3 separate regions of the Homo sapiens genome follow, and regions 1 and 2 are each linked to region 3. Evidence: fine-mapped expression QTL. A gene starts in region 3. Each other region holds a variant in brackets. All regions are shown on one strand. Distances are between the middles of the regions.

Evidence for each region.
Region 1: its variant is fine-mapped to the expression of TSPAN33 in whole blood (TOPMed, PIP above 0.99). The same link has a PIP of 0.9 or more in macrophages, monocytes and monocytes after interferon gamma.
Region 2: its variant is fine-mapped to the expression of TSPAN33 in monocytes after LPS (Quach 2016, PIP 0.95).

The regions. Positions count from the first base shown.
Region 1 is chr7:129,118,108-129,126,250 of GRCh38, reverse strand. No RefSeq gene overlaps it. Among named protein-coding and RNA genes, the nearest start is that of TSPAN33, 23 kb to the left of the region's middle. RefSeq lists enhancers at 3,127-3,396, 3,847-4,016. The variant C/A (reference allele first, on the strand shown) is at 3,508.
Region 2 is chr7:128,269,419-128,277,602 of GRCh38, reverse strand. No RefSeq gene overlaps it. Among named protein-coding and RNA genes, the nearest start is that of LEP, 32 kb to the right of the region's middle. The variant A/C (reference allele first, on the strand shown) is at 3,314.
Region 3 is chr7:129,140,443-129,148,626 of GRCh38, reverse strand. TSPAN33 (tetraspanin 33) reads right to left here and starts at 3,920. Exons shown (of 8, transcript NM_178562.5): 1 at 3,545-3,920. The coding sequence starts at 3,646. RefSeq lists an enhancer at 886-935 and a silencer at 3,798-4,007.

The DNA of each region.
Region 1 (8,143 bases), 22 kb after region 3:
TTAAATGTGTTAATTCATTTAATCCTTAAAACGATGACATGAGGTAGGTACTATTATTATCCGCACTTCACAAATGAGGAAACTGAGGCAAACAGAGGTCACCTAGCTTGCCCAAGGTTAAACAGACAGCCACATCCAGAAAGCTATAGAGTCTGGCTTTAAACCCAGATAGACCAGCTCTAGGTCTGTGATCATAACCACTGAACTTTACTGCTTCTTACAGCAAGAGTGTATCTGACGAAGTCGTGACTTGGAACTGGCCAAGTCTAGGAAGGATCCAGAGTTTAATTCTGAAGAAGGGAAAGGAGGCTGATATTAAACATGCAATATTTCCAGGCTGTGCTCAGATCTTCATGTAGCTCATTTATGATTACAGAATACATTGCTAAAGAAAAATGGTAAAGAAACGATACTCGTATTTTGAGCAAATCCCCCTCCTCAGACTCCATTTCTAATTACTGCCATTTTCTGAAAGAGTTGTAAGCAATAAATTCTAACTCTGTTAGAAGAGAAGAAAATGTACTGCTCAGGAAGAGTCCTGCAAAACAGAAAAACTTCAAGACAAGCTTAAGCAGTGGTTGCAGATTTATTGCACATTACATTATTTGGATGGACAGGTGAATTTTCTTTGTCCCATAATGTCTTAAAATTTTTGAATTTGAGCTGGGCACGGTGGCTCATGTCTGTAATCCCAGCATTTTGGGAGGCCAAGATGGGAGAATCACTTGAGCCCAGGAGTTCAAGACCAGCCTGAACAACATAGAAAGACCTCTGTCTCCACAATTTTTTTTTTAAAAAAAATTAGCTGGGCATAGTGGTGAGCACCTGCAGTCCCAGCTACTCCGGAGGCTGAGGTGGGAGGATCATTTGAGTCCAGGAGTTTGAAGCTGCAGCGAGCTGTGATCATGCCACTGTACTCCAGCCTGGGCAAGAGAGCTAGACCTTGTCTCAAAAAAAAAAAAAAAATTGAATTTGAATGCTTTTAGCTTGAGCTTACTCTCTCCAATTAGCCATCATCTTTACCACTCCTAGTTACAAACACTATATTACTTCCCTGGACCTAGTAGGCATGCATAGAGGGAGATAGAGATCATTTGTGCAACTAGAGTGATACAGCCAATGAGTAGTCAGTAAAGAACGGAAATTAGGGGCACGCCATTATCAGGGACAGGTCTGTTAGAATCCCATAAAAAATTCCAGTTGTATTCAACCTCCACTGACAATGACGTGGTTCCAGATCACAGTGGATGGAGGAGACTCACCATGCAGAACTGAGTGACGCAGCAGGAGTAGCATCGTGGCAAAGGTAAGAGGTGAGGCTGTGCCAACCAGAACAGGCTGTATTGAGGAGGAGCAAGAAATAAGGTTGGAGGTGTTCGCGAAGGGTTTCAAAGGGCAGGCAGAAGAGTTCAGATTGTGTGAGGTGGAAAACAAATAAGGTTTGTTATTTGGGGCCCTGGAGTGCCTTGGAGATATCCTGTCTCTGGAATATCTGGAATTGCAACGGGAGTAAGAAGTTAGAAGAGCGGCTGTAGATGTGAAGAGGAGGAAAGGATCCAGGGGAATCGAAGTGAGGAGGTTGGCTTTTGTCTGTAGAATCAGGTCTGGTCAGAGAGGAAACTGGGCAACGCAATCATGATCTCAGGGGAAGCATCATGATTTGGTGGAGTTGAGACTGGGGCCGTGGACTGCAAACAAGGGGTTTGGGGATATTTCCTATCAGGAGCAGTCTCACATCCATATAGGGGTAGGCCACTGTGCACTTTTTATGTGAGAGGTTCCATAACGTTTCTCTTCCCTTACTTCTCACCCTCACCAACTTGTCTGAAATTCCCACCATTCTCTAATCCAATTCCCATTATGGTTAGGTTAAGGTGTGGAATCACTATTTAAAATTCAAATATAGGCTAGGTGCAGTGAGTGGCTCACGCCTGTAATCCCAGCACTTTGGGAGACTGAGGCAGGAGGATCACTTGAGGCCAGGAGTTCGAGACCAGCCTGGGCAACATGGCAAAACCCTGTCTCTACTAAAAATACAAAAACTAGCCAGCCGTGGTGGCTCACACCTGTAGTCCCAGCTACTCCGAATGCTGAAGCACAAGAATCGCTTGAATCCGGGAGGCGGAGGTTGCAGTGAGCCAAGATCGCACTACTGCACTCCAGCCTGGGTGACTGAGACACTGTCTCAAAAAAATAAAAATAAAAATAAAAATAAAATATTAAAAAGAAAATGCAGAAAATGCAAAGATTTCTAGGAGGGATACCCAGACCAATATCTGCACTTCAAATCTTAGAAGTTAAACATTTATCAAGACATGATTCTGTACACCCTCCATTCAAGCCACCAGAAATCTGAGACAGAATCTCATGTGTCTGAGACTCGACCACTCTGATTTTGAAGTGAAATTATTTCAAATGCTTAAATGGGTAGCACTGAGTGTTTGTCTGTTATTTTTCCAAGCCCAGCACCTATTCCCCGTTCTGGTACCAGCATGCTAGATTTCCTTTGGGATGCCACCCCACCTCCTGTCTCAGGCTCAGTGAGCATGGGAGAGATCTACCCTTCCACCTGGCAGGTGGAACGCCGGACTCTGTTCTGGCCAATCAGAGCCCAGGGATGGTTATGCGCTCTAACTTGGTCCAGTCAGAATGAAGCCTCTAATTTAGTTGGGGAGGAGGACCATTACTGAAAGGGATTCCCTCTCTCTTTTGCTGGGACCCCCTGGGATTACAGATGACCTGCAGCCACTGGGGGCTACCCCAGGGCTCCTGAGAGAGAAGGTAACACTGAGGAAAGGTAGAGCTGAGACAGGGTTAAACCAAGTCCCAGTGACATAGTTTGAGCCACAAGATCAGTGGTGCCTGAAACAAGCCCTAACCTTAGACTTTTCAGTTATGCGAATCAGTGAAATTGTGTGGTTGTTGTTTGTTGGTTTGGTGTTTTGTTTCATTTTGTCTAAGTCAGATAAAAATGGATTTTCAGTTATCTTGAAACTGAAAATCTGCTGACTGGCACGCCATCCCGCTGGCTTGTGTGCTGTGCACATTAACAAGACTCACCTTTTCTTAGGATTCATCCTATGTGCAAGATTACCAGGATGTAGCCAGATTCAGGATGCCTGTTTTTATAGCTTAGCTACAGAGTTTTTCTTCACCTCTAGCAATTGCCTATGCCCTTTCAGCGGCCTCAGCAGGGAGAAGCACAGTGGGACTCCTTGAAAGGCAGATCCAGAAGGCTGGTTATGTGGACAGTTCACCACAGTTAACTGGGGTAACCACAGTTGGCCTGGGCAGTCCAGAAGCAGATGACCCACCCCCATACTGTGGGCAGCTCTTCCTGCAGTGCTTAACTCCAGAAAAAAACCCTCCACCAGTTCCTTACTAAGGTGGTAAACAACCCTAAGAAATCTGGCTCTCTAAGCTTGGGACAGCCAAGAAATGAGTCAGCCTTCTGGAGAAACCCCCCTTGCCACAGCCTGTGCTTCCCCATTTCTGCCAGGGCCCCAG[C/A]CCCAGCCCCAGCCCCCATGTCAGTAAAGCCTATGCATTTCTTTCAAGAGCATGACAAAACCTCATATCTGAAAAGCACTGAAGTGCTGTACCTCTTTCAAAGTACTTGTGCATTCATTATCTCATTAGGATACCAGATTTGCTATTTTTTTCTTCAGATTCTTTTTTTTTTTTTTTTAACTCAAATCCAGCAGAGTTTTTTCATGTGGTTCTCAATGAGACTTGAGAAGAGAAAATCAGAATTCAATCCAAAAGCACAGCTTTTCTAGAGACATAAATATAATCCTCCTCTCTCATGCCAAAAATAACAAGGGGGCAGAGGTTAGATTCTAGAGGAAAGAACATTGAGTGTGAACTGAAACCTTTCTAGTTACAGATCTACCACTAAGTAGCTGTGTGACCTGGACAAGCCCCTTAATCTCTCTGCACTTCAGTTTCTTCCTTTGTAAAATGGCAGCATTGAGGCTTCCTGGGAACCCTGGCCTTGATATTTTCTAAGCATCTTTGAAGCTCTGAGGTTTTATGGCTCGGTGAATTGTAGAATCTGAGGAGACTGATTTATAAGCAAGTTGGCACGTTTTTTAAGCCCAGTCATTCCTTTGGTGTGTGCAAGGGAGAGCCCCTGCTCAGAGTGTCAGGAGCCATAGCACATTGGGATGTAGACTGAGCATGGCCCACTTCCCAGAGACCCCAAGGCCTGCCTTAGGCCCACCTCTGATGGTGGTGGTTGGTTGGTGGTGGTTAGTTGGTTAAATGAAGGGTGAGATCCTGACCACTCACTAAATGCTGAACTCTTGATAGATTAGGAGGAAGCTCTGCTATCTGTGGGATGAGGCACAGCAGATGATGTGGTTTGGCTGTGTTCCCACCCAAATCTCATCTTGAATTCCCACATGTTGTGGGAGGGACTGGGTGGGAGATAATTGAATCATGAGGGCAGGTCTTTCCCATGCTGTTCTCATGATAGTGAATAAGTCTCATGAGATCTGATGGTTTTAAAAATAGGAGTTTCCCTGCACAAGCCCTCTCTGTGCCTGCTGCCATCCATGTAAGATGTGACTTGCTCCTCCTTGCCTTCCGCCATGATTGTGAGGCTTCCCAAGCCATGTGGAACTGTAAGTCCATTAAAGCTCTTTCTTTTGTAAATTAGCCAGTCTCGGGTATGTCTTTATCAGCAGTGTGAAAACAGACTAATACAGCAGATGTCAGATTGGTTCTTGGAATGGAAGGTAAGCGAACTCTAGTGTTTACTGAAGACAGGGCCTATGTAGGGATTGGCAGGGTAGGGTGGTAGGCCCTATTTAGCAGTACAGAGACTGACCCAAGGCACTTTTCTTGCTGAGTTCAACCTTCTTTTGCAACCCTTTCTTCTGGCAAGTGCTTTCTGCCCAGTGGGGAGGTGAAAGGGTCCCTCACCTTCATGAACCCCTTCTGTGTGAATATACCCTCCAATAAATCCTGGCTCTTCTTTCCATTTCCAATGACTACTTTGAGAAATTAGGATGTCAGTGGTTCATCTTGTCTCATGCAAGCCTGAATTATGTATTCTTTAAGAACAGTGACTATGATCCATCAGACTGTCTTCCACCTGTCATTCAGCATGGCTTTGGCTCTGAACTCTCCACCAACCTTTTTCCTTCCCTGCAACACACACATTCAAAACTAAAATAACCCATTACCACCACCACTAACAACCCCCCCCCCCAACCATCCCATTATAGATCATATCCTCCCAGGAAGTTTTTCTTTGTTCCTAAATTAATTCATACCAATGTGGTGATGGCCACTCAGGCTTGTTACTTGTCTACCTGCCCTACCACGACTCTAAATATGTATTTCCATTTTAACAGGAGATGTTGGATCCAATTTGTCAAAAACTATCTCATTAAAGGAACAAACTTGTTTCAGCATCAGACTTATGATGTGATATTTTTGTCTTAATCCCTCAAAGTACTGAGAGAAGGTTGGGTACTAGTGAAGTCAGAGCTATTAGGGGGCACCCTGGCTAATCAGGCCTTCCTCTGGGCCAGCAGTGCCATCCTATTTATACCTACAGTTTTAGCATTCAGAACAAAATCTTACTACACAAAGAAATTTATAGATTTAATGCAATTCCTATCAAAATACCAACGACATTCTTCATAGAAATAGAAAAAAAATCTTAAAATGTATATGGAACCACAAAAGACCCTAAATAGTCAAAGCAATCTTGAGCAAAAAGAAAGCTGGAGGCATCACACTACCAGACTTTAAAATATCCTACAAAGCTGTAGTAAGCAAAACAGCATGGCGCTGGCATAAAAACAAACACATAGAACACTGGAACAATAGAGAACCCAGAAATTAATCCATGTATCTATAACCAACTGTTTTTTGACAAAGGTGCCAAGAACCCTTATTGATAGTCTCTTCAATAAATGGTTGAGGCAAAACTGGATATTCATATGCAAAAGCATGAAACTAGATTCCTGACTTTCATCCTATACAAAAATCAACTCAAAGTGGATCAAAGACCTAAATGTAAGACCCAACCCTATAAAACTACTAGAAGAAAACATGGGGAAATGCTTCAGGACATGGGTCTGGGAAAAGATTTTATAAGACTTCAAAAGCATAGGCAACAAAAGTAACAATAAACAAATGGGATTATATCAAACTAAAAAGCTTCTACACAGCAAAGGAAATAATCAATAGAGTGAAAAGACAATCAACAGAATGAGAGAAAATATTTGTAAACTATTCATCCAACAAGGGATTATTATCTAGAACATACAAGGAATTCAAACACTTCAATAGCAAAAAAGCAAATAATTCAATTTAAAAAATGGGCAAATGGGCCAGGCATGGTGGCTCACACCTGTAATCCCAGCACTTTGGGAGGCCAAGGCAGGCAGATCATTTGAGGTCAGGAGGGTGGATCACTTGAGGTCAGGAGTTGGAGACCAGCCTGGCCAACATGGTGAAACCCCCTCTCTACTAAAAATATAAAAAATTATCCGGGTGTGGTGGTGGCACATGGGTGTAATCTCAGCTACTCGGGAGGCTGAGGCAGGAGAATGGCTTCAACCTGGGAGGCAGAGGTTGTAGTGAGCTGTGATCGTGCCACTGTACTCCAGCCTGGGTGACAGAGCAAGCCTGTCTCAAAAAAAATAAAAATAAATAAAATAAATAAATAAAAGGGCAAATGATCTGAACAGATATTTCTCAAAAGAAGACATACAAATGGATGGTCAACAAATATATAAAATAATGCTCAATATTACTAATCATCAGGGAAACACAAATCAAAACCATCAAGAAGTATCATCTCACTCTGGTTAGGATGCTATTATCAGAAACACAAAAAAATAACAAATGCTGGTGAGGATGTGGAAAAATGGAACTCTTATTCACTGTTGGTGGGAATGTAAACTAGTACAGCCACTATGGAGAAGAGTTGGAGGTTCCTCAAAAAACTACAAATAGAACTACCATATGATACAGCAATCCCACTACTGGGCATTTATTCAAAGGGAAAGAAATCAGTATATCAAAGAGACATCTGTGCCCCTATGTTTATTGCATCACTATTCACAATAGCCAAAATATGGACTCAACCTAGGTGTTCAATAACAGATGAATGGATAAAGAGAATGTGGTATACGTACACAATAGAACACTATTCGGCTATTAAAAAAAGAATGAAATCCAGTTATTTGAAGTAATGCGGATAGAATTGGAGCACATTATGTTAAGTGAATTAAGCCAGGAACAGAAAGTTAAATACTGCATGTTCTCACTCCTTTGTGGAAGCTAAGAAAAGTTGACTTCATAAAAGTAAAAAGTAAAACAGAGGATACTAGAGGCTTGAAGGGCAGAGGGAAGTGGGAGTTAGAGAGATGTTTATTAAATGATACAAAATTACAGCTAGATAGAAGGAATAAGTTCTAGAGTTCTATACCAGTGGTCCCCAACATTTTTGGCACCAGGGACTGGTTTCATGGAAGACAATTTTTCCACAGACCAGGGAGTGGGGGATGGTTTCAGGATGATTCAAGCGCATTACATTTATTATGCACTTTATTGCTATTATTATTACATCGTAATATTAATATGTAATGAAATAATCGTACAACTCACCATAATGTGGAATCAGTGGGAGCCCTAAGTTTGTTTTCCTGCAACTAGACAGTCCCATCTGGGGGTGATGGGAGACAGTGACAGATCATCAGGCATTAGATTCTCATAAGGAGCCTGGCATGTGCAGTTCACAATAGGGTTCGCACTCCTGTGAGAATCTAATGCTGCCATTGATCTGACAGGAGGCGGAGGTCAGGCCGTAATGTGAGCAATGGGGAGCAGCTGTAAATACAGATAAAGCTTCACTCAGTAGCCTGTTGCTTACCTCCTGCTGTGTGGCCCGGTTCCTAACAGGCCATAGACCGTTGTTATGCGACCATGGCTCAGGGGCTGGGGACCCCTGTTCTATACCACTGTAGGATGACTGGATGTAACAATATATAGCTTCAAATAGCTAAAACGGGCCAGGCACAGTGGCCCATGCCTGTAATCCCAGGACTTTGGGAGGCCGAGGCAGGCGGATCACTTGAGGTCAGGAGTTCGAGACCAGCCTGGCCAACATGACGAAACCCCATCT
Region 2 (8,184 bases), 870 kb after region 3:
ATATTTTCTCCCAGTCTGTAGCTTGTTTTCTCATCTTCTCAACTAGATTTTTCACAGAGCAAAAGTTTTTTAATTTTTATGAGGTCCAGTTGCTCCAACATTTGTTGAAAAAGCTCTCCCAGGGCCAGGCGCAGTGGCTCATGCCTGTAATCCCAGTACTTTGGGAGGCCGAGGTGGGTGGATCGCCTGAGGTCAGGAGTTTGAGACCAGCCTGGCCAACATGGTGAAACCCCCATCTCTACTAAAAATACAAAATTTAGCCGGGTGTGGTGGTGCACACCTATAATCCCAGCTACTTGGGAGGCTGAGGCAGGAGAATCACTTGAACCCAGGAGGCGGAGGTTGCAGTGAGCTGAGATCTCGCCACTGCACTCTAGCCTGGGCATCAGAGAGAGACTCCGTCTGAAAAAAAAAAAAAAAAAAAAAAAAGAAAGAAAGAAAGAAAGAAGGAGGGAAGGAAAGAAGGAAGGAAAGAAAGAAAGAAAGAAAGAAAAAGAAAGAAAGAGCTCTCCTTCTTCTCTTGAATTGCCTTTGTACCTTTGTCAAAATCAGTTGGGCCTATTTGCGTGGATCTATTATAATTTAATTTTTAAAAATAGCTATGTTTAACAACCAGTTCACGGCTCTCTCAGCAGGTTCTGACATAAGTTTGGTCAGCCCCTCCAGTTTTCCCCACAACCTCAGCATTTGACTTTGTGTCCTGCTTCTGTGGCAAAATAGTACCCACATGACAATTCCCTTTCCTCATCTCCAAGTCTACAAACCTGCACGCCCACCACCTCAGGTCTGTGCTTGCCTTCACCCTCCTGCTGGAAGAAAAGACCCCAACCCTCCTCCCTTCTGAGGCCAGAGCACCTGGTGCTCTGAATTCTGAACCCCTGCCCCCCCACTTCCTTAGACACCTCAGCCCAATGTTTATCCCTCCTGCTCTCCAGGCTCTCAGAATTCTTTTTATTTTCTTTTTATTTTTTTTATTATTTTGAGACAGGATCTTGCTCTGTCACCCAGGCTGGAGTGCAGTGGGGTGATCATAGTTCACTGAAGCCTCAACTTCCCCAGCTCAAGCGATCCTCCTGCCTCAGCCTTTTGAGTAGCTAGGACCACAGGTGTTTGCCACCATACCTGGCTAATTTTTTTCTTTTTTAAATTTTTGATAGAGACAGGGTCTCAGTATGCCCAGGCTGGTCTCAAACTCCTGGCCTCAAGTGATCCTCCCTCCTTGGCCTCCCAAAGTGCTAGGATTACAGGCATAAGCCACCATGATGGCCAGGCCCAGGCTCTCAGAATTCAAACAGATGTGCTTCCCAGGCCCATGCTCCAGGTCTGCCCTGCCTCCCCCTCAAGCTCTCCTTCCCACTCCCTCATCACATCTCCCATTCAGTAACTTGTTCCAAGAACCAGTTTCCACTTCCTCCCCCACTCTCCCTCCTCAATATACTTTGGTCTCCTTTTAGTCCAACCACAGTGCTGAAGCTGTCCTCCTCAGGTTCTCCAAGCAACTGAACTGTCCCCGAATCCCACCTGTGTGATCTCCATTGACGCTCTGCATAGCTGGCACTGCCATATTCTCAAGACATTGCCTCTCTGGGCCCCCATGTAGCCCTCTCTTCTGATTGGTTCCTGGTTTCTGCTTCCTCTCTCCTTGTTCCTCACATTTTGGGATTCCCCAGGGCTCTTCCTGGCCCTCGGCCCTCTCTCCCCCACACTCTCCCAGGGCAGGGTGATCCTGCCTGCTGGTGCCTCGCCCCCAGATCTCCCTGCCTATCTAGGCTGTCTCCTCAGTGCCACCCCCGGAGCAGAACACCTCCTCCTCAAGTCCCCTTGGGGCTCTTGCAGGTGCCTCAAACTCTACCTGGCCCAAGCCCATGGAGCTCAGCCCCTCTTCCCCACTCCTCCCACAATCAGTGGTCCCCAGTCCCATTTGCCTCAGCCACTCTTCTCACCCTACCCCTGCACCCAGCAATCACCAAAGCTGTCCATTCTGCTCCTGCCTCTCCCTTGAAGCCTTCTTTTCTCCTTCCCTGCTACCACTGGTTCTGGTCACCAGGATCCCTCATCTGGACTGGGGCAGCAGCCTCCTAACTGGTCTATCTATCCCCCACCCAGTGCATTCTCCACACTTCAGCCACAGTGACCTTCCTAAAGTGCAAATCTGACCATGTCACCTCTTAGCTTAGAGCCTTCTACTGGTTCCCCCAGCCCTCAGCACAAAGTCCATTTGAAGTGGACCTTGTGTGATCTGGCCTGGCCCAACTCCCCCTTTCATGCCAAGGGAGCTGCGCTTCATTCAGTTGCTCAGTGGAACTCAGGGCCTCTCTTTTTAAAAAATTGAGATATAATTCATATACCATACAATTCACCATTTTAAAGTACAAAATTCAATGGGTCTTGATATATTCACAAGATTGTGCAACAGTCACTGCTGTCTCATTCCACAGCATTTTTATCACCCCAAAAAGAACTTCTGCCTATTAGCAGTTATTGCCCATTCCCTCTCCCAACCCTGGCAAATACCAACCCGCTTTCTGTCTCTATGGATTTACTCATCCTGAACACTGTCTACAGATGGAATCACATAGCATGTGGCCCTTTGTTTCTGGCTTCTTCCACTGAACATACTGTTTTCAAGGTTCCAGGGCCTCTCTCTTGCCTGGGAACTTTAAAAACACTGTTCGTCTATCCCCAGCAAGCCCCCTCCATCCCTCTACCTGGAGAACTCCTGCTCAGCCCTCAGGTCTGATTATCCCTTCTTTGGGGGGCACTTTTCTGACCCAGATCCCTGACCCTCAGGCTTGGCTGGGACCCCTGCTTTATGCCATAGCAGGCTCACTTCTCCCAGAATAGCCCTCATCACATTCTACGGTTGCTATTGATCTAAGCTGCTCTCCTACTGGACTGTAAACTCCCTACGTTCTGTTCACTCCTGTACCCTAGGGCCTCACCCAGGCCTGGCACATGAAAGGCCAACTAATGTGCTGCATAAAAAAGTAAACCAAGATCTGCTGGAGCTTGGGCAGAGTCCACTGGGAATCCAGCACAGGCACCTCGAAGCCTCACTGTGTAGCCTCTCATCCTTTCCCTGTCTTTTTCCTCTCTGACATCAGGATGGGATCATAGGGGAATGTAGGGAAGGGCTTTGGACAAGACCCTGTATCTCAGAGAATCTGGAATAGTGGGGGGCAGTGGAGAGTGGGAAGCTGCCAGCCCATAGCCCTGTGGAGTTTTTGTTTAGGAGAGGCAAAGCTTAAGAGACTGAAGCCCTTGAAAGGCCTTCTGAGCTCCTGAAGGTCGCCCAGGCTGCTTTTGTTCTTGT[A/C]TTCCCATCCCCAGTGCTGGAGGAGAAGGAAGTGTCCAATATGTGTCTCAGGAAAGAGTCAGTGGAGACAGGCTGTAGCTTTGGGGTTTTCAGTAAGAGCACCCTGACTCCACCTGTGCTTCTGCAGTACCAGGGAGGTTCACTATAGTGCAGAGTTGCAGAGTTTCTTTCTTTCTTTTTTTTTTTTTTGAGACACAGTCTCACTATATCACCCAGGCTGGAGTACAGTGGTATGATCTCGGCTCACTGTAACCTCCGCCTCCTGGGTTCAAGCGATTTTCATGCCTCAGCCTCCCATGTGGCTGGGATTACAGGTGCATGCCACCACACCTGGCTAATTTTTGTATTTTTGTAGAGATGGGGTTTCATCATGTTGGCCAGGCTGGTCTCGAACTCCTGACCTCAAGTGATCCATCCACCTCGGCCTCCCAAAGTGCTGGGATAACAGGTGTGAGCCACCGTGCCTGGCCTTACAGTGCAGAGTTTCTGTCTTTCCCACCCATGCTGGCACTGCTGGGGCCTCGTGGTGGTGTCCCAGGAGGAAGTGTGCTCCAAGAGAGACACATGCTGGGGCCCAAGGAGGAGAGTACGGGATCCTAGAGTCTGGGCTGAGGACTTCCTGAGTCCCACAAGGCAGAAGACTCGGGAGGTTTGCAGGATGCAGTCAACGCCAATACCTCCCGTAGAGGGAGAGGCATCTGCTCTCTGAGTCAGCAGCGGATCAGAAAGCAAAGCTGGGGGCTTTATTTCCAGAAGGCTCAGTCTGTGGCCCATTTGGATCTTGACCATTGTCATTCAAGACTCTATCAAATGCTCACTGGGGGGTGTTTCTACTAAGGTGTAAATGCTGCCCTACTGGAGCCTGAATCAGTCAGTGCAGGTGAGGGAGCAGAAATGTTGAAGATCTGCAGTTTTGTCCCTAATTCACTCTTCGGGCATTTGCCTTCTCTAGTCTAACTCTCACTATAATAGCGTGAGCTGGGTGTGATTATCCCTATGTTACAGATGAGGAAATGGAGGCTCCACGTATCTGGCATTTTCTGAGATCCCTGGGAGCGTATTCAGCTCAGGGCAGAATACAGGTCTCTAGACTCAAGTTCTTTTCACTGCAGAATGGGGTAGAAACGAGGGCCCCCTGGGGCTCCTCCACAGCTAGGTGCTCTGTAGTTGTTCTGGAGAGGGAATTTCTAGGGAGGTGAGGTCCTAGGAATCCAACTTCATTGCTTAGGTCAATCTAGATCCAAGTTGGATGAGACCTAGTGCAGGGCCAACAGGGCTAACATTGCCATATTTAGCAAATAAAAAGACAGGACACCCAGTTAAATCTGAATTTCAGATTATCCACGGATCGTTTTTTAGTGTAAATATGCCCCTGATAAACAACAGATGCATTTTTAGTGTAAGTATTATTGCATAGCACACACTCCCATGCACACGCATGTAAAGTCCAGACAGCTAGACTTGTCTTCCCAAGCCTGGCAAAGAACAGCAATTAATTCAAATGAAGAAATCACCACTGGTAGATATTTAGACCTGAGTGTAGGGTGATATTTTTGTGGGCAGGAACCTTCCAAATATTCTCTTCAAATCTTAATGCTCAGATGAAAAATTACTGGTTTGCTGGGCTTTCATTGTTATGTTATTGTTATTGCTTGACTTGGTGGCTGACAATAACAGTGTGGGATAATAACAGGACCCACTCACAGAATTGAGATGATGAAATGAGTTAAATGGAAAGTGCTTGTTAAAGGGGCCGAAGTCATCCAGGTACAGTTAACTGAGGGTACCGGACCTGCGGGCAGCAGGAGCGCTCACGGGACCACTGGCGCCGCTGTCCATCGCCCCGCCTCCCACCCTGACCCTCTCCAATCCCCTTCGACTGGGCCCTCGGGGATGGGCATTCAGTGGTCTTGGCAGAAAAGAGGCCCAGAAGGGCAGCTCTAGGCTGGCTGGGGGGTTCGGGGGCCGCCGAGGCTGGGGGACCCCGGGGCGCTCCGTGTGTCTCTCCCTTTGGCCCCCTGTGCTTCGCTGGGCTCAGCATTGCTGACTCAGGGGAAGCAGGAAAAGGAAAGGGGGTAAAAGCCAACAGACAAAACCAACAATAAAAAAGGGAAATTTGCTGAGCGGGTGGGATCATCCAGACCCAGCCGGGCGAGTCAGGGCGCAGCTCTGCGCCTGCGGACACCGACCGCGGCAGTTTGTGGCTCCCCAGGCCGGAGATGGCACCTGGGGAGAGGCCCCAGCCCTCCCGGACCGGGTCAGAAAGGGGCACAGGGTGGGCTCTGTGAAGAGTCGGGGACGGGGATCGTGAAGACATTTCCTGTACTGATAGATTCCTTCCAGGACAAAAAGAAAAGGCACCCGAGCAGCTCAGCGGTTTCCAGAGGACTCGAGTCTCCTCCGACTCGACTCCTTGTGAGAGAGATTCCGACTCCCCTTTTCTGGGAGACACTGGGCGGACAGCCGGGATGGTACCGGGGTTCCCAGCCCTCCCACGCCCGCCCAGGCAGTCCTCCTGCGTGGGGAGAGAGGACTCCGCCGGGCCCGCGCGCGGACCTGGCGCGCATCGTTTCATTCCCCTCCCACCACCAGCCCCGCGGGGCCAGCACGGTACCATGCCCCGCGCAGGGAGGGATTGAGTAATTTGCCCACGGTCACAGGGCGCTGGCACTAGAACCCAGGCGTCGCCCTCCCGGCCTCCCGGCCCAGCTGTTAACCCTGTGCTCTCCTGTCTCCCGCTGGACCCAGCTGTGGCCTCAGAGCTCGGCTGGCACCGCAAATAGAACGTGTGTTCCAAACGTGTTATGTTGGCTCAGAGGCAAAGGATTGTGGCTGCTGGGGGGTCTGACTGGGTGTCACCCTACCGGATACACCTATCTACCGAATCGTGGAATTGTTGATGCAGAATCGACCTAAGCAAATGGGTCTAGGATGCGATTTTTCAGCTGAGGAAACAGGCCCAGAATGGGGAAAACGTGTGCCCAGGCCACACAGCATCAGGATTAGACTCCTGGTGGCTGGCATCCCAGTGGGGGGGCCCTTGTTAACTCTCCCACGTGGCTGCGCTCTTCTCCCCAGCCCGGCGTGGAAAGCCTTGACCAAGACGGCGTCCTTGCCCCGGACCTTGCTTTTTGCAACCCCCACCCCTTTCAGCCGCGTGAAGAGCCGCGAGGCAGAGCGGGAACACACTGCCTCTGCCCAGCACCCCTAGCGGTTTCCCGGTGAGGCAGAGGGGTCCCCGGAGAAGGTGGAGGGCGCTTTCCACATCCAGGCGTGGGGGACTAGGCTGGGCCTCTAGGCCGAGCGCCGCCTGACGGTGGAAGCCTACGAAGGGCTTGAGACACCGCGGCCCCGACCCATGTGGTGGCTGAGTTTGGCGAGAGGAGCACGGGCCAACGTTTATTGGGTAGCCACCGGGCGCTGGGCACAAACCGTGGTTCAATCAGCTTAAAGGACTGGCAAGCGCGTATTGGAGACCCACGGCCTCCCCTGTCCAGGCCCTGGGGGTACCTGGTTCCATCAAGCCTATTTTAAATGGTCCTGAGGCTGCCTTTTCAGATACTTGGCCCCTTTGGCCACAGAATATGTGGGTCACAGATGCTCCCTCCCCACACCCCACAAGGGTCCCTTGTCTTCTTTTTTAATTTTTTCTTTTTTTCTTTCTTTCTTTCTTTTTTTTTTGAGACGGAGTCTGTCGTTCAGGCTGGAGTGTAGTGGCACGATCTCAGCTCACTGCAACCTCTGCCTCCTGGGTTCAGGCGATTCTTCTGCCTCAGCCTCTCGAGTAGCTGGGATCACAGGCACACGCCACCACAGCCAGCTATTTTTTAAATAGTTTTGGTAGAGACGGGGTTTCACCATGTTGGCCAGGCTGGTCTCGAACTCCTGACCTCAAGTGATCCACCCGCCTCGGCCTTCCAAAGTGCTAGGATTACAGGCGTGAGCCACCGTGCCTGGCCTTAATTTTTTTTTAATTTTTAATTTTTGTGGGTACACAGTCGAGGTACATATTTATGGGTTACATGAGATATTTTGATACAGGCATGCAAATGTGTACTAATCACATCAAGGTAAATAAGCTATTCATTCCCTCAAGCATTAATTATTTTAAAATGTACAATTAAATTAATTTTTACTATAGTCTCCCTTTTATGCTAGCAAATACTAGGTCTCATTCATTCTTTCAATTTTTTTTGTACCTATTAACCATCACCCCTCCCCCCACCCCCACTACCCTTTCCAGTCTCTGGTAACCATCCTTCTATTCTCTATCTCTATGGGTTCAACTGTTTTAATTTTTACCACCCACAGATAAGCGTGAACATATGAAGTTTGTCTTTCTGTGCCTGGCTTATTTCAGTTAACATAATGATCTCCAGCTCCATCCACGTTGTCGCAAATTACAGGATCTCATCTTTTTTATGACTGAATTGTACTCCATTGTATATATGTACTACATTTTCTTTATCCATTCGTCTATTTTTTTTTTTTTGAGACAGGGTCTCACTATGTTGCCTAGGCTGGAGTACAGTGGAGCAATCATGGCTCACTGCAGCCTCAACCTCCTGGGCTCAATTGATCCTCCTACCTCAGCCTCCCAAGGAGCTGGGACTATAGGCACATGCCATGACACCTATCTAATTTTTGTATTTCTTTGTAGAGACAGGGTTTCACCATGTTGCCCAGGCTGATCTCAAACTCCTGGGTTCAAGCCATCCACCTCCCTTGGCCTCCCAAAGTGCTAGGATTATGGTTGTGAGCCACCGTACCCAGCCCCATTTATCTATTGGTGGACACTTAGTTGCTTCCAAATCTTGGCTATTGTGAGCAGTGCTACAGTAAACATAGGAGTGCAGATCTCATATGGTAGC
Region 3 (8,184 bases):
GAGGAGAACACAGTTGGGTACCTCATCACCAAGAGTGCTCAAGGACCCCAGGTTGAGCTGCATCTTGACAGGCCAGTGTCCATGAGGAAGGGAGGATGGGCATCAAGCCTCTACCCTGTGGGGTTTGCTCTCTCACTCACCATCCAATAAACATTCAGTAAGCACCCAATTTATGCCAAACACAGCTGGGCACTGGGGATCCAGAAGTGAATAGGGCCGTGCCCACCCTCGAGAGCCCGAAGTCTAGAGGGGGAGACGGAGAAGTAAACACAATTGCAGCACAGGTAAGGGATGTGACAATAGAAGAATACAGAAGGTGCCATGGGAGCCCTGAGGCATGGCTGCTAGGGAAGCCTGGGCTGAGACACAGGGGCTGGAGGTCTGAGCTTCTGGGCTCTGCCTGACTCAAAAGCCAGCCAACTGCTGCCCTGAGTGGGAAAAGGACCAGCGAGGAAGGAGGTGGGCGGCACTGAATATTCCTGACAACACATGGCCAAGCTGAGAAAGCAGGCACCACCCCAATATCTGCACGGAGCTGTCCTGCAGAGGGAGGTGAGGAGAGGCAGCTGCTCTGTAGCCACCCTAACTGATTTAAATGCAACATCTAGGATCTTAGAGCAGCTACTCCAGGCCATGGAATCCCCACAGTCAGTAACCCAGCAACATGATTCTGGGAAGAAAATCAGAACTCCCAGGTCAAAGGGGAAGTGAGATTTGAAACATGAACAGTAGGAACTGGTCCCAGTCCCCCAAAATTCATTAGTTTTCTGAGTCAGACTCCAAATGCCCCAAGAGTCAGGGCTTCTAGAGCAACAGCAGACGTAGCCACCATCACCACCAGCACCACTATTCAGAGCCCAGAGGATGCCGGACACCTTCCTAGTGGGTTCCAGGCACAGACACAATAACCACTGCCATGCGGCAGCTCCAGAAGCCGGCCAGAGCATGCACTCTGCCTGCAAAGGGTGTGGGCTGACCATCATCTCATCCATAGGTGCTTCCTGGGCAGAAGAGCAGAATTTGATTAGGATGGTGGAAGTCTACAAAAAAGAAAGCATGGGAACCAGTCCCTGAAGAGGAGCTAGGAAGAAAGATGGCCCCCTGATCTGGGGAGGCAGCATTTTCTCTCCAGCTGCTCTTGTATGAATATACCTGTGCAGCACTGGGTTTGGGGGAGAAGGGACATTCAATAACACCTGAAAAGTACTGTCCCCTAGGAAGGGCAATCAGGACACAGGGAGATTCATCCTTAGATCCAGCTCTAGGTCTTGAAGAAAGAAAACAGTCCCCAAAATGATTCATTCATCCTTAAATAGTTCACTGAGGCAGAAATTGTTTCTCCTTTAGAGGAGAAAGATTAAGGTCAGAGAGACAGATACATTGGCTTAGGGTCACACAGTAAGTTGGTGCCAAAAAGATGCTGAGCCTCTTGTCTTTCAGTGTGCTATTTCTAGAGCCTCTGATTTTTTATGAGTCTACTGTAGGGCCAAGAAGGGGCTCTATTCTAATTTGGGGTGGTGCTAGCTTGGCCACCCACGTCTTCTGACCTTGAATGAAGCATTTTTACCAAGGTAAATGGGTCTGTGGAGCCAAACTCTCTCCTGGCTGAGATCTCTCAAAGTCGTTTGTCCGATAAAAGGGGGGTAGGGTGGAGGTAGGGGGTAGGGAAGCTCGAGAAAAAAAAAATGACCAGGAACACAAGTGTAACAGATGCACCCAGCTGTTGTCACTGGCGAGCACAGACAAGGGTGAGGTACCAATGGCTCCAAGGGAGACAGTCTCGGCAGATAAAGGAAGTCAGAGTGACGACCTAAAGTCCCTGAAATGCTAGTGCTGGCTCCGAGGATGTCACGTCACTGGCCTGGCACACTCAGTGAGCACAGAGACTTCACTGATACTTGCCCCTAAGTGGGGAGTCTCTTAGTACATCCCCCAGCACTGGTAGAGTGGTAAGGGATTTTCTTGTGTTTTTCCCTAACCTCCAGCTGAAGCAGAACCTAGACTATGGGAACTTGGGTTGACTGGTTAACTACTAATACTGCCCATACCCCAGCTATAGCAGCAGCCATCTGTGCTGAGGACTTCCCCCAGCGGCACTGTGGTTCAGTAGAAAGGTCACCAGACCAAGCCTGCTAACCAGCTGTTGGACCTTGGACAAAACATTTAACATCTCTGTGCTTTAGTTTTCTACATTTTATAGACATAAACACAGATGCTGGACAAGATGTCTTCTAAAATTTTTTTCCAGTTTTACAACTGAGCATTTGATAGGAGCACAAGTTTCATTTTCCCCAGGAGTAGGATGGCTGAGTGCGCTGTCATCACCACCCTATGGGATTTCTCTCATTTGTCCCAACAGGCCAGCACTTATGGGCTTTGTGTCTGCACCTCACCCCACGGGCCCTGTGAAACCTTTCCAGCAAATGGCTTAGATGTCTGTTCTGCTCCCTCCCCTAGGAAACATATTTTAGACTCAATTCTTCCCTCCTGCAAGTCTGAACTTTAGGTCTCCAGCTGAAGTGGGCAAGGATGGTGGGCTCCAGAAGCAGCAGCTCTGGTGTGGTAGGAGCCAGAAGAGGAGGTGAATGGGGGAAGGATGTCCCTATGTTCTCACACCCCAGGACCTCCAGGACTCTCTAGCCAGGAAACAGGGTCGAGCTGGCATTGCATGATCTGGTTCAGCTCAATTCTCAGCTTCAGCAGTCTTTCTGCCACCCCTGATCACACTGGGTTGGATTTGTGGGGGAGGGAGTCAAGGCCTGCAGACATGAACATACATGCTTAGGTCGGTCAAGTCAACAATGAACGGCAGAGTGGGATGGGAATCCAGGTGTCCGGAGTCCCAGCCCAATACTTTTTCCACCCCAAGCAGAAGATTCTGAAAGGACCCCTGGCCCTCCGGCCCAACACGGGGTCCTGTTTAAAGACACTGGTGATTGCCAGGCTCCAGGGGTGAAGTCTGGTCCTGAGAAGGGTGGCAGGGAGGGGACAAAGTTTGGGGCAGTGCTGGGATGGGAAAGACATCTGCACCTGGAGGCCATTCTTCCTAGACTTTGGGGGGGTGGAGGTGGGGGTAGATGAGGCCTGCAAAAGGAAGAGATGATGCCAGTAACCCATCCTCTCTGAGGTGGTGGAGAGAGAGGTTTGGGTTTTTCCTTCCTCTTCTTTCTTTGCCAGCCGGGCCTCCAGGCCCCCAGGCCTGAAAGTCAGCCGCCACCCCCGACCCCCATCATGAATGTGTCAGTGGGTCCGCCTTGGGCCAACAGGCTCCCTCAAACCCACATTTCTAGCCTAACACAGACCCTCCTCCGACGCCCCGAGAATACCCATCAGTCTTTACTGATTCCCTGGCATACCCTCCTCCCTACAACGCCCCCTGCAGACGCGGCGTCCCCGGGGTGTCCCTCCCCAGGATAAATTCCCCCAAAGTGCCGTCAGCCCAGAAAACTCGGCAGTGCGGCTCCCGCGCGTGGGGCACCCCGGGCCACCCTTCCACCCCGCGGGGGGACCCCGCCGCCCAGGTGCCCTCGACCCCGAGACTCACCCAGAAGAGCATGTTGAAGAAGAAGAGCAGGTATTTCACCAGCGGGCTGACGAAGGAGAACTCCTCCCCGGAGGCGGCCGGCGCCCGGGGTCTCCGCGCCATGGCCCCGCCGCCGCCACCGCCCCCGGGGGCCTATTTCCCAGCGGCTGCCGGCCGGCCTGTGTGCCCCGCGCCCGGGGGCATGAGCCGAGCCGCGCCGCGCAGGAGCCCGGCCGGCGGGGGAGCCTGCGCTGCGGCGGGAGGCGCCCGAGCCGGGGGGCCGGGAGCGGCGCGGGCCGGGGAACCGCGCCTGGAGCTGCTGGAGCCGCGGTGGGCAGCGCGAGCGGACGAGACTCACCCGCGGCCGCAGGACCAGCCCGGCCAGCCAGGCGCCCAGGAAACCCGGCCCGCCCCCGGCCGCTCATTGGCGCGACGGCTGGAGCCCGACTTCCCATTGGCTCGTGGCTGATGTCACTAAGTATCCAGCCATCCCTCTCCACCGAGAGTCGGGGGAGACACCTGTTCTGTGAGGGATAACTTGTTAAAGGGTCAGCGGTTCTGCCTCTCCCCTACCCCTAAGGGAAAGCATCCAGGCTGCAGCTGCTCAAAGGAACAAGAGTGAGGAGAAGGAATGCACAGTGCATCCCACACCCACGTCCTCCGCCCAGCTGCTGTGCACATATGCAAACACACATACATTAAAATCAACAAGTACGCACACCGTGTGTTGAGCAATGCGCCGAAAGCTCTGGGAACGCGGGAGAACAGAAACAATCCCTGGGGGATGACAATAAAATCAGGGAGACAAAACTAACCTACACATAACAATTAGACCAAGGGTAGATGCAATCTTGTTTAGTAACTATACATTTTAAATGCTTATTTCAGAAGCTCTACAACCCAACAGTGGAAATTTGGAAACATCACCGCCAATCCCGCCATCCTAATTCATTGCTGTCTCAATTCCCGCCCCCGCAGCCCCTCTTCCCTTGGTCTACTTGCAGACACCGTTTTTAACATGCTGATCCGGCACACACAGGTTGAGTGCAGCGTAGCTGGCGAATATATTATGCTGGCTACCCTAACTAATACAAGTTGAACCTCGGGGAGGGAATCTGATTCCACCATAATTAGCTGCGTGAAAGCTGCAAGCTACTTAATCTCTCGGAGCCTCAGTTTGTTTAATGTTAAATGGGAGAGTCCTGACCTAGATGGCGATTTGAGGATTAAATGAGATAATGCATGTAGCTCACTTAGCACATGGCTGGCACATGGAAGGCTCATCAAAGGCATTACAGTATTTCGTTTTAGCAGAATTAAGAATCCAGTGTGGAAATATGATAACCGCACAAATAATTATAATACGTTTGGTAGAAGGTTAGTGAAGATAGCGTGGCAAGTGAAATTAGGGGAGGATGGGATTTAGAATAGTAGAGACGGAGGGGAAACATAATCCAGGTGGATTAAAAAAAAAGGGGGTGAACCAAAGCCTGGAGGTGCAAAAGCACGCCATGTGTTTCGTGCAAAATAAGCAGACTGCTGTGGCTGGAGCACAGGGTATGCTTGGAATAGCAGTGGGACATAATGCTGACCGATGCCGTTACATGTGGAATTGTGTTAAAACTGCGGAAGTAATTGAATATCAGATTGGGGAGTTAGTGCTTAATTGACTTGGAAATAAGAGTTTTGGAGAAAAGGATGATGGAAAACCCATGGTTTTCAGTTGGAGTGGGAAAGAGGCTGGAGAGAGAAAGATTTGTTAGAAGCATGCTGCTCATCATCCAGATAATCAGAAATCAGGAACTGATTTAGGAGTAATAGACAGAATAATAGATGGTTAGGAGAGGATAGAAGGGAAGGCATTGGAAAGATAGAATCTCTAGGGCTAGGCTGTGGTGACAAGCAGGCATAACAGGAGCACCAAGAGTGGAGGTTAAAGAAGGCAGTCACAGCCAGGTTACTGGGAGATTACTGGCCCTTAACAGGTTAAGTGACACTGGAGATCAGTTTTAGTATAAAGCAGGTAGGGTGGGCAGAAGTCATTTTCCAAGAGGTTAATGAGTGAATAGGTAGGTGCCATTTTCAGATGTTAGTGCGGGGAGGATAGAGAAATAGACCAAGATGCTGAATGTTTCTATTAGATGATCTTCCAGAAATCAGTTTTATTTTTTTGAAACGGAGTCTCACTCTGTCGCCCAGGCTGGAGTGCAGTGGCCTGATCTCAGCTCACTGCAACCTCCGCCTCCCTGGTTCAAGCGATTCTCCTGCCTCAGTCTCCCAAGTAGCTGGGATTACAGGCGCCCGCCACCATGCCTGGCTAGTTTTTGTATTTTTAGTAGAGATGGGGTCTCACCATGCTGGCCAGGATGGTCTGAACTCCTGACCTTAGGTGATCCACCTGCATGGGCCTCCCAAAGTGCTGGGATTACAGGCATGAGCCACTGTGCCCAGCCAAGAGATCATTTTTAATTGAGACGGGAAGAAGAAGGAATATCACAGTGTCAAGGAAGGAATGGGTGGTGAAATGGAAGCTGTGAACGAAACTGTGGACATCTCTGTCTGGCTTTGAAGGTTATGGGAGCCTTAAGGGACTTCAGAGTGAAGGGAAAGTTCTCTGTTAGCATATAAGAGACCTAACATGTTCGTAGGAAACAAAACAAAACAAAACAAAACAAAACAGTCAAGAGGGATTAAGGTGGATAATGGCTGGAATGAGGTTTTGGAATTAACAGGTAGAGATGGGATTAGCCTTCAAAGTGATGACCACAATGTCCCTCATGTGGAAGTCACGGACGGCATCACAAAGTAGGAAGCCATGCAGCTATAGAACAAAGAATTAGGAAACTCTCTCTGTACTGAGTTGGAACGATCTCCAAGTTAACTCATTACGTTTAAAAAGCAAAATGAGGCCGGGGTGGCTCATGCCTGTAATCCCAGCACTTTGGGAGGCCGAGGCAGCCAGATCACGAGGTCAGGAGATCAAGACCATCCTGGCTAACACGGTGAAACCCTGTCTCTACTAAAAATACAAAAAAATTAGCCGGGTGTGGTGGCGGGCACCTGTAGTCCCAGCTACTCGGGAGGCTGAGGAAGGAGAATGGCATGAACCTGGGAGGCGAAGGTTGCAGTGAGCCGAGATCGCACCACTGCACTCCAGCCTGGGCGGCAGAGCAAGACTCCGTCTCAAAAAAAAAAAAAAAAAAAAAGCAACAAGTGGGACAGTGGATACAATATATCACATTCTGGTTAAAGAGAAAGAGAGAAAACAAAAATAAGGAATAACATTTATATTTGCTTCCCTCTGCCTAAATAAACTCTGGAAGGAAACGTAAGACATTAAGAAAGGAGGTTACATACTGGGATGGTGATGAGAACTGAAAAGAGAGGAGAGAGACTTTTCACTGTGTGCCATTTTATTCTTTGTTTTTTTTTTGTTTTTTTTTCTTTGCAGCATAAAGTGTATTAATGATTCAAAATGAAAAAATTACACAAATTGAAAAATCAAAAAGAATTTAAAAATTGGAAAAATGTATCTTTACTATAGAATGCTACGCAGCCATTTAAAATAACATAGAAAACATATGTACTGACTTGCAAAAAGGTCCATGACATATGAGGTGCAAAAATCAGGTTGTAGAATAAAGTATACAGAGTATCTGACAATCAGTGAATAGTTTCAACTTATTTCAAGTCCTTGGAAAAGGTATTCAGTTCTTTGGAATACATAATGTGGCCATTTAAAATGGAATTCAATGGAAAAGGTATTTCAGTTATGTGGAATATATAATGTGGCCATTTAAAATGGAATTCAAAGCAGAAGTGGTGGCTCATGCCTGTAATCCCAGCACTTTGGGAGGCCAAGGTGGGCAGCTGACTTGAGGCCAGGAGTTTGAGACCAGCCTGGCCAACATGGCAAAACTCTATCCCTACTAAAAATACAAAACTTCGCTGGGCGTGGTGGTGTGCACCTGTAATCTCAACTACTTGGGAGGCCGAAGCACAAGAACTGCTTGAACCCAGGAGGTGGAGGTTGCAGTGAGCCAAGATTGCACCACTGCACTCCAGCCAGGGTGACAGAAATTCTGTCTCCAAAAACACACACAAAAAAAACAAAAGAAAACAAACAAACAAAAAATGGAACCCAAAAAACTTATGTAATAGTATGTAAGATTTTAACAATATAAACATATTCACAGTAAGAAATATGGGCCAATTTCAACAGAGATGAAAAAATATAAAAGTAAAATCAGCTGTGTTGTTGTGACGGGACATGTAGCAATTTTTAGCTTAAAAATATATTTAATATTATTACATATGATTATGAAAATAATTAAAATATTTGAATGGTATCTCTGTAAAGAAAGAGGGTCATGTTGCTGGAGCTAACATTGGCAAGAAGGTATGTGAAGAGAGAAGCAGTGACACGGTGTAGACGAGGAGCTTTAGGAAAGGGGAGTTCTGGGTAGAGCAAGGCAGGAGACTCCAGGCAAGACGGGTCAGCAGCAGTGATGGCTCAGCTCGTGTGGCTGATGACTGTGGGGATCCCAGTTGGCCAGGCTGGTGATTTCCTTCAAAAAGCATGTAGACCAGGCGTGGTGGCTCAAACCTGTAATCCCAGCACTTTGGGAGGTTGAGGTGGGTGGATCACGAGGTCAGGAGTC